2 linked regions of the Homo sapiens genome follow. The protein of the gene in region 2 purifies or fractionates together with the protein of the main gene of each other region. This does not show direct contact. Each region holds a gene or a part of one and is shown on either strand. Other genes may lie near its edges. The genes, in order: RAB11FIP3 and ACAP1.

Region 1 (3,808 bases), on a different chromosome or scaffold from region 2:
TTTCAGTAGAGACGGGGTTTTTCCATATTGGTCAGGCTGGTCTCGAACTCCCAACCTCAGGTGATCCTTCTGCCTCGGCCTCCCAAAGTGCTGGGATTACAGTCGTGAGCCATTGCGGCCAGCTGTTATATTTATTTTTAATTAATTAATTTTTTTGAGATGGGTCTTTATCACTCAGGTTGGAGCACAGTGGTGTGATCACATCTCACTGCAGCCTCGACCTTTTGGGCTCAAATGGTCCTCCTGGCTGGCGCTGTGGCTCACTCTTGTAATCCCAGCACTTTGGAAGGCTGAGGTGGGTGGATCACCTGAGGTAAGGAGTTTGAGACCAGCCTGGCCAACATGGTGAAACCCCGTCTCTACTAGAAATACAAAACTTAGCTAGGCATGATGGTACATGCTTGTCTTCCCAGCTACTCAGGAGGCTGAGGCAGGAGAATCACTTGAACACAGGCCACGTAGGTTGCAGTGAGCTGAGATCATGCCACTGCGTTCCAGTCTGGGCGATAAGAGTGAGACCCTGTCTCAAAAAAAAACCCCCAAAAAACAAAAAGCAAGCTCCTCCGTCAGTCTCTTGAGTAGCTGGGACCTACAGGCAGGTGCCACCACACCTGGGCAAGCTCCTCCGTCAGTCTCTTGAGTAGCTGGGACCTACAGGCAGGTGCCACCACACCTGGGCAAGCTCCTCCGTCAGTCTCTTGAGTAGCTGGGACCTACAGGCAGGTGCCACCACACCTGGGCAAGCTCCTCCGTCAGTCTCTTGAGTAGCTGGGACCTACAGGCAGGTGCCACCACACCTGGGCAAGCTCCTCCGTCAGTCTCTTGAGTAGCTGGGACCTACAGGCAGGTGCCACCACACCTGGGCAAGCTCCTCCGTCAGTCTCTTGAGTAGCTGGGACCTGCAGGCCGGTGCCACCGCACCTGGGCAAGCTCCTCCGTCAGTCTCTTGAGTAGCTGGGACCTGCAGGCAGGTGCCACCGCACCTGGGCAAGCTCCTCCGTCAGTCTCTTGAGTAGCTGGGACCTGCAGGCAGGTGCCACCGCACCTGGGCAAGCTCCTCCGTCAGTCTCTTGAGTAGCTGGGACCTGCAGGCAGGTGCCACCGCACCTGGGCAAGCTCCTCCATCAGTCTCTTGAGTAGCTGGGACCTGCAGGCAGGTGCCACCGCACCTGGGCAAGCTCCTCCGTCAGTCTCTTGAGTAGCTGGGACCTACAGGCAGGTGCCACCACATCTAGGTAAGTTTTGTATTTTTGGTAGAGACAAATTTCACTTTGTTGGCCAGGCTGGTCTTGAGCTCCTGGGTTCAAGCGATCCACCCACCGAGGCCTCCGAAAGTACTGGGATTACAGGCGTGAGTCACCGCGCCCAGCCTGAATTGTGTTTTATAAGTAATGTCTCTGCTTAGAGACAGTTGGGACTTCAGGCGTCAGACCCCTCCCTCCACACTGCCCTCTCCAGGGCCTTGCAGCAGTGAGGTGTGGGGCGTTCGCAGTTCCCCTCCCAGCTTGTGCCCGCTGACTGCTGGCGCACTCTCTCCTAGGCCAACGAGGTGACGGACAGCGCGTACATGGGCTCCGAGAGCACCTACAGTGAGTGTGAGACCTTCACGGACGAGGACACCAGCACCCTGGTGCACCCTGAGCTGCAACCTGAAGGGGACGCAGACAGTGCCGGCGGCTCGGCCGTGCCCTCTGAGTGCCTGGACGCCATGGAGGAGCCCGACCATGGTGCCCTGCTGCTGCTCCCAGGCAGGTCTGTACCCCGCCACGGGCCTCCTGGAGAGGCCTTGGGATGTGGCACCCTGTGGAGGTGTCTGATGGGCAGACTGGGGTCTTGGAGGAGTGCGTGCTGGTTAGCATCCATTATGTGGGGGTGGGGCTTGGCCCTGCAGTAGCTCCTGACCTTCCTGGGATGAGCCCACACCGTCCTGCCCGCCTTGCCCGAGCAGTCTCCCTGTTCCAGCTGACTTTCCTGTCAGGACGACTGTGGTTTCAAATGTTGCTCAACATCTTTAGCTGTAGAGATAGAAATTATAGAAGTGAATGTCTCGGCAGGGTTTTGGAACCCGTTCACCTTTGCAGCACCCCTGAGGAGGCCATGTTCTCTCCCCACCTGTCCCCCACCCTCAGGATTTCTGTAGCCCCCGTATTTCGAGCTAGTTGGGGCCGGAGTAGAGGGACGGGCAGAGTCTGGGAGAAGGTCAGATGAAGGAGGTGTCCAGTGGCTCACGTGGACCTGCTTTCCGTGTTGCCCCTGCTACTGGAAAGTCCGCTCAGCACGCTGAAGTGTAATTGTGAAGCAAAAATTAAATTCTCAGCCTTCAGCCAACTGATGGACCCCCTCTCTCAGCCTCAGGCGTTGCTCAGTCAACCTGAAAATGTAGTTCAGGCCATGGTTAGGGAGGTCAGGCAGGCCTCATTGGGCCCCTCCCTTTGGAACTGAGGCCCAGCTGACCAGCATTCACATTAAACAGACTCTGACAAAGGCGGACTTTTTATAGCAGCGACAGCACACCACATTCCAGCCTGACTCTAGTGTAGCATCACATGACAGGTGGCAGGCCCTGAAAGAAATCCGAGTATTTTACCCCAAAATAGATTTCTTTGACATTTTTCAGAATGGCTCTACAGGACTGTGTCTTGTGGGGAAAGTCTGCACCCTGTAGAGAATCTCCTCCCTTCCCAGGTCTTTTCCCTGGTGCAGGAGGGAATTAACTCGGAGTCTGGCACCTTGTGAGGTCTGCTGCCTGCTGCCTGGAGGCCTCATCTGCTTGATAAAGCCTTGGTCTCCACAGCCCCTTATCTTAAGCCGAGGCATTCCTTTCTATTGATTCCAAGTCTTTAGATAATAACTCTTTCAAACAAACAACTGCCAGTCAGAAGATCTTCGCATCTGCTTTGACCTGGAAGCCCGCCCGTCCCCCGCTTAGAGCCGTCCCATGTTTCCTGACTGAAGCAGCATCTTGCATGTAGGGTTGATGTCTTCTGTCTCCCCAAGATGCATAAACCCGGCCCTTGGGCACATGCTCTCAGGGCTTCCTGGGGCGGCATCACGGGCTGTTAGTCACTCTTATCTGGCTCAGAATAAACCTCTTCAAATATTTTACAGAGCTTAAGTCTTTTTGCCAACATAATATACCCACAAGTAAGTGCCCATGTTGTAAGTGCACAGCCAGCAGGTTTTTCAAACTGACCATTCCCACGGCCCTTTTCTCAGGCAAGAACAAAACACTCCCGCACCCAGGGTCCTCCCAGGCCCCTGACAGCAGCCAGCTCTCCACCGGCCCTGCATCTTCCTTAAGTTCCCCCACACAGGGAGGTCCTTCCTGTGCCTGGCTTCTTCCACTTGCTGTTGCGCTTGTGGATTTAGCCATTTTTTTTTTTTTGAGACGGAGTCTCGCTCTGTCGCCCAGGCTGGAGTGCAGTGGTGCGATCTCAGCTCACTGCAGCCTCCGCCTCCCAGGTTCCAGCGATTCTCCTGCCTCAGCCTCCCGGGTAGCTGGGATTACAGGCGCCCGCCACCACGCCCGGCTAATATTTGTATTTTTTAGTAGAGACGGGGTTTCACCATGTTGGTCAGGCTGGTCTCCAACCCCTGGCCTCAGGCGATCCGCCCGCCTCGGCCTCCCGAAGTGCTGGGATGAGAGGTGTGAGCCACCGCGTCTGGCCGTATTCAGCCCTATTTTTGTGCATTGCTGTAAACTGTTGACTTTTATGATTCTATTGCGAGAGCGTGCTGCGACTCTAGAGTTGACTCTCCTGTCGGCGGCAGCGGGTAGTTCACTGTCGTTGGCTTTGAGGGTGAAACT
Region 2 (3,908 bases):
TGGGAGGATTACTTGAGGCCAGGAGTTCCAGACCAGCCTAGGTAACATAGGGAGACCCCATCTCTACAAAAAATAAATTTAAATTTAAAAAAGCCAGGCGTGGTGGCATGTGCCTGTAGCACAGCTACTGGGGAGGTTGAGGAGGGAGGATCACTTGAGCCCAGTATTGAAGCATCTGGGATCACAGCTGTGGCCACTCCATCCAGTCCATTGTTTAAAATTATTATTTGTAGGCCGGGTGCGGTGGCTTAAGCCTGTAATGCCAGCACTTTGGGAGGCTGCGGCAGGTAGATCATTTGAGGTCAGGAGTTCAAGACCAGCTTAGCCAACATGGTGAGACCCTGTCTTTACTAAAAATACAAAAAGAAAAAAAATTATCCAGGTGTGGTGGTGCACACCTGTAATCCCAGCTACTTGGGAGGCTGAGGTAGGAGAATCACTTGAACCTGGGAGGTGGAGGTTCCAGTAAGCCGAGATCGCACCACTGCACTCCAGCCTGGGTGACAGAGCGAGACTCCATCTCAAATAAATAAAAATAAAAATAAAATTATTATTTGTAGAGATGAGGTCTCACCATGTTGCCCATAAAACAATGTTGCCCACTAAATTTGTGACAATTTGTTACACAGCAATAGAGAACTAATATATAGCAAGCAAATACATAATGTGTCAGAGGTAAATGTTGCAGAGAAAAGTAAAGCGAAGTAAGGGGAATGAGAGAGCATTTGAGTGTGTATTTGTGTGAACATGCTGTTTGATAGAGTGCTCAGGGGACACCTTACTGTCTTGAATTGAAACGTTTCACTGGTTTGTCTTCTAGTCAGCCTTTGGGCTCCGTGGGAGCAGAAATGATCTTGTCCTCCCTGAATGCCCAGGGCCTGGCACAATGCAGGAGCTCAAGAGCAGAACAAGGAAGTCCAAAATTAAGTCTTTTTTTTTTTGACACAGAGTCTCGCTCTGTCGCCTAGCCTGGAGTGCAGTGGTGCGATCTTGGCTCACTGCAACCTCCGCCTCCCAGGTTCAAGTGATTCCTCTGCCTCAGCCTCTTGAGTAGCTGGAGCTACAGATGGGTGCCACTAAGCCTGGATGATTTTTGCATTTTTAGTAGAGATGGGGTTTCGCCATGTTAGCCAGGCTGGTCTAGAACTCCTGACCTCAGGTGATCCATTCACCTTGGCCTCCCAAAGTGCTGGGATTACAGGCATGAGCTACCATGCCTGGCCCAAAAGTAAGTCTTGTTTTCCAAGATCCTGAGCTTCTTGTCGGTACAGAACCACCTTTTTTGCTTCTCTGCAGTCTCCAAAATATCTCCCCTACACAGTATTCAATAATCCCTGGGATGCATTCTGTGTCTCCAGCTTTCTCCCTGGCCCTACCCCTCTCAACCTAATCCACTCCTGGGTCACCTCTCCATGTCAGGGTCACCTTTTCCAGACGGGTCTCCAATTCTGACACTTCGGCTTCCACCAGCTCAATAGAGGCTCTGGGAAAGAGGGGGTCATGGGAAGAGAGCTTGGGTCCATCTGGTCTGTCTGCCTCATCAGGCGGGATGGAGTCGCAGGGCGGTGGGTACGGAGGAGAAAGCTGCAGAGTTGAGAGGCTCGCCCCCCACCCACCTACTTGTGCTCTGCCCGCTCTGCAGTCTGGGAGCTACCACAGCCCAGGCCAGAGCAGGAAGGGTAGAAGGAGGGTGGATGTGGCCAGGGCAGGAAGTTGCTAACCGCCCCAGAGCAGGTGCTGGGGGAGGGGCAGGGGTCCCACTGAGAGGCCAGAGGGAATGCCAGCTCTAGGGGTGAGGGAAACTGCAGAGGCCAGGAGGAGCATGCAGGGGCAGAGAGCATTGGAGTACCCTGCTTTCACAGCTGGGGTACCACTTTGGCCCACAGGCTCGCTCCTGCCTCTTAGAGGCCTGCTCCCTGGAAGGAGACCTGGCCTGGGGAAAGGTGTGTGTGTGCTGGGGGTGTTAGACTTTCCCCTCCTTAGCCCCCCAGACCAGTTCACACTTACCGGAAACGGGGTGAGTCCTTGAGACACTCCTCGAAATCCAGCTTGACCGTCATCTCAGCTTGCCTGCTGTGGGGCCAGCGGGCCCTGGAGGCCGGGCCCCTGGGGATGCAGGTGGAGGCACTTTCTGTCCCAGGAAGGGGAGATGAGGGGGAAGGAGGAGAGGGACCTCCGCGGGGAAGGGCCTGGGGGCACAATTCTTTCCCCAAGGGGAAAGGGGTGTCCTAGGAGGAGCTCTCACCCCACACTTCCAGGCAGTGCTGGGAGGGGCAGGGGCGGGGCCTGGGCGGAGGATGGGGGCCTGAGATCAGAGAAGCCACAGCCCCACCCTCAGAGACGATCTGCCAGCTCCTTCCTCCTGGGGCTCTAGCCTCTGTTTCTTTCTCTCTTCGTGGTTATCTTGGGGGCCTGGCAGATCTAGGTTCAAATCCTGGCTCTGTCACTTAGAGGTTATGTGCCCCTGGACGAGCTCTCTGATTCCTCAGTTTTCTCATCTGGAAGATGGGAATGATAACCCCTTCCTCCAGGGCTGTACGAAGTGAAGAAGGTGATAGCAGTAAATTCATGGTTCACTAAATTTATTTATTTATGAGACGGAGTCTCCCTCCATCGCCCAGGCTGCAGTGCAGTGGCGCGATGTCGGCTCACTACAACCTCCGCCTCCTGGGTTCAAGCAATTCTCCTGTCTCAGCCTCCCGAGTAGCTGGGACTACAGGCTCCTGCCATCATGCCCGGCTAACTTTTTGTATTTTCAGTAGGGACGGGGTTTCACCTTGTTGGTCAGACTTGTCTCGACCTCCTGACCTCAGGTGATCCACCCACCTCGGCCTCCCAAAGTGCTAGGATTACAGGCGTGAGCCACTGTGCCCAGCTGGTTCACTATATTAATTGCATCAGTCATTGTCATCCTGCTACAGCTTGGGCCTGCTCCTGTGGAGTCCAGTACCCCGGACTGCTCCCAGCTTTCTTCGTTTTGCCGTCATATTCATGGTTCCTGTGTGTGAACTCCCCTTCCTCCTCCCCTCTCCTCAACGACTGAGCAGGCCCAGCCTGAGCACCCGATTCACAGCTCCCAGACTCTTGCTCTTCTGCTCTTTATTTCTATTCATAGGGTGGTCATGAAGGGAAGGTTGCCCCCACTCCGCCCCCAACCAGCCCCATTTTCCATTGTTTGCTTTCCTTTTCTTGAGTCCATTGAAGTCCCAGGGTTTCATCTGGAGAGAAGAGTTTGAGTTCATGGCTTTCTCGTAGCAGGCATGAGATCTTGTCCATGTGACTCTGGATCCCCTAGAACCTCCCCACTCAGCTCCTCTACCTCCCTGGCCAGTGTATGCATCCCCTTGCCTCTGCCCAGGCTCAGTGTGCCAGGCTGTGCTTGTTCTGGCTTGAGGAGTTGGGGTTGCTTCCACTCTCCCTCTCTGAACTCCTTGGGCTTTGCCAGCTCAGCCCCCCAGCCACCAGCTGGACACCACTTGAGACTCACTGTCTTTGGAGGACAGAGAAATACCTGGAGTGGGGTGGTGTGGCAGAGGAGTGAAGGAGGAGGCATGGAGCCAGTGTGTGGTGCCAAGCTGGAGGGGGTCCCAACCGCCTCTGAGTCTCCCTGGTTCCTCGCCTGTCCAATGTGGACCTTGGACTTGAGGCTGTTCAGGGCCTCTCCTTCCACCTGTTGCTGATGTACTGGCCTGAAAGAATTGGAGGGCTGGGAGATGGGAGCTTGCCAAGAGACAGCCCCAGGGAGATGGTGGCCTGGTGCCCTCAACAGGCTGCAATGTTGTCATTGTTGCCATCAGGGAGCTCTCCGTGGCCTTGTGATCCCTAAAGGGGCCTCCCATGTGGTCCAGTAGGTGGACTTCAGTGCTTACGGGGTTCTCAATCACCTAGGTCAAGCTTGTGGAGCCTAG

The links.
Region 1: the proteins of ACAP1 (region 2) and RAB11FIP3 purify together in Homo sapiens (affinity purification with western blotting, with the first as the bait; one study listed by BioGRID). This does not show direct contact.

The regions. Positions count from the first base shown.
Region 1 is NC_000016.10:480,985-484,792, forward strand, and holds part of RAB11FIP3 (rab11 family-interacting protein 3), read left to right. Parts: intron 1-1,540; coding exon 1,541-1,752; intron 1,753-3,808. UniProt on the Homo sapiens protein: Downstream effector molecule for Rab11 GTPase which is involved in endocytic trafficking, cytokinesis and intracellular ciliogenesis by participating in membrane delivery. Recruited by Rab11 to endosomes where it links Rab11 to dynein motor complex.
Region 2 is NC_000017.11:7,334,887-7,338,794, reverse strand, and holds the start of ACAP1 (arf-GAP with coiled-coil, ANK repeat and PH domain-containing protein 1), read right to left. Parts: upstream 2,267-3,908; 5' UTR 2,061-2,266; coding exon 2,008-2,060; intron 1,533-2,007; exon of another isoform or gene 1,484-1,532; coding exon 1,426-1,483; intron 1-1,425. UniProt on the Homo sapiens protein: GTPase-activating protein (GAP) for ADP ribosylation factor 6 (ARF6) required for clathrin-dependent export of proteins from recycling endosomes to trans-Golgi network and cell surface.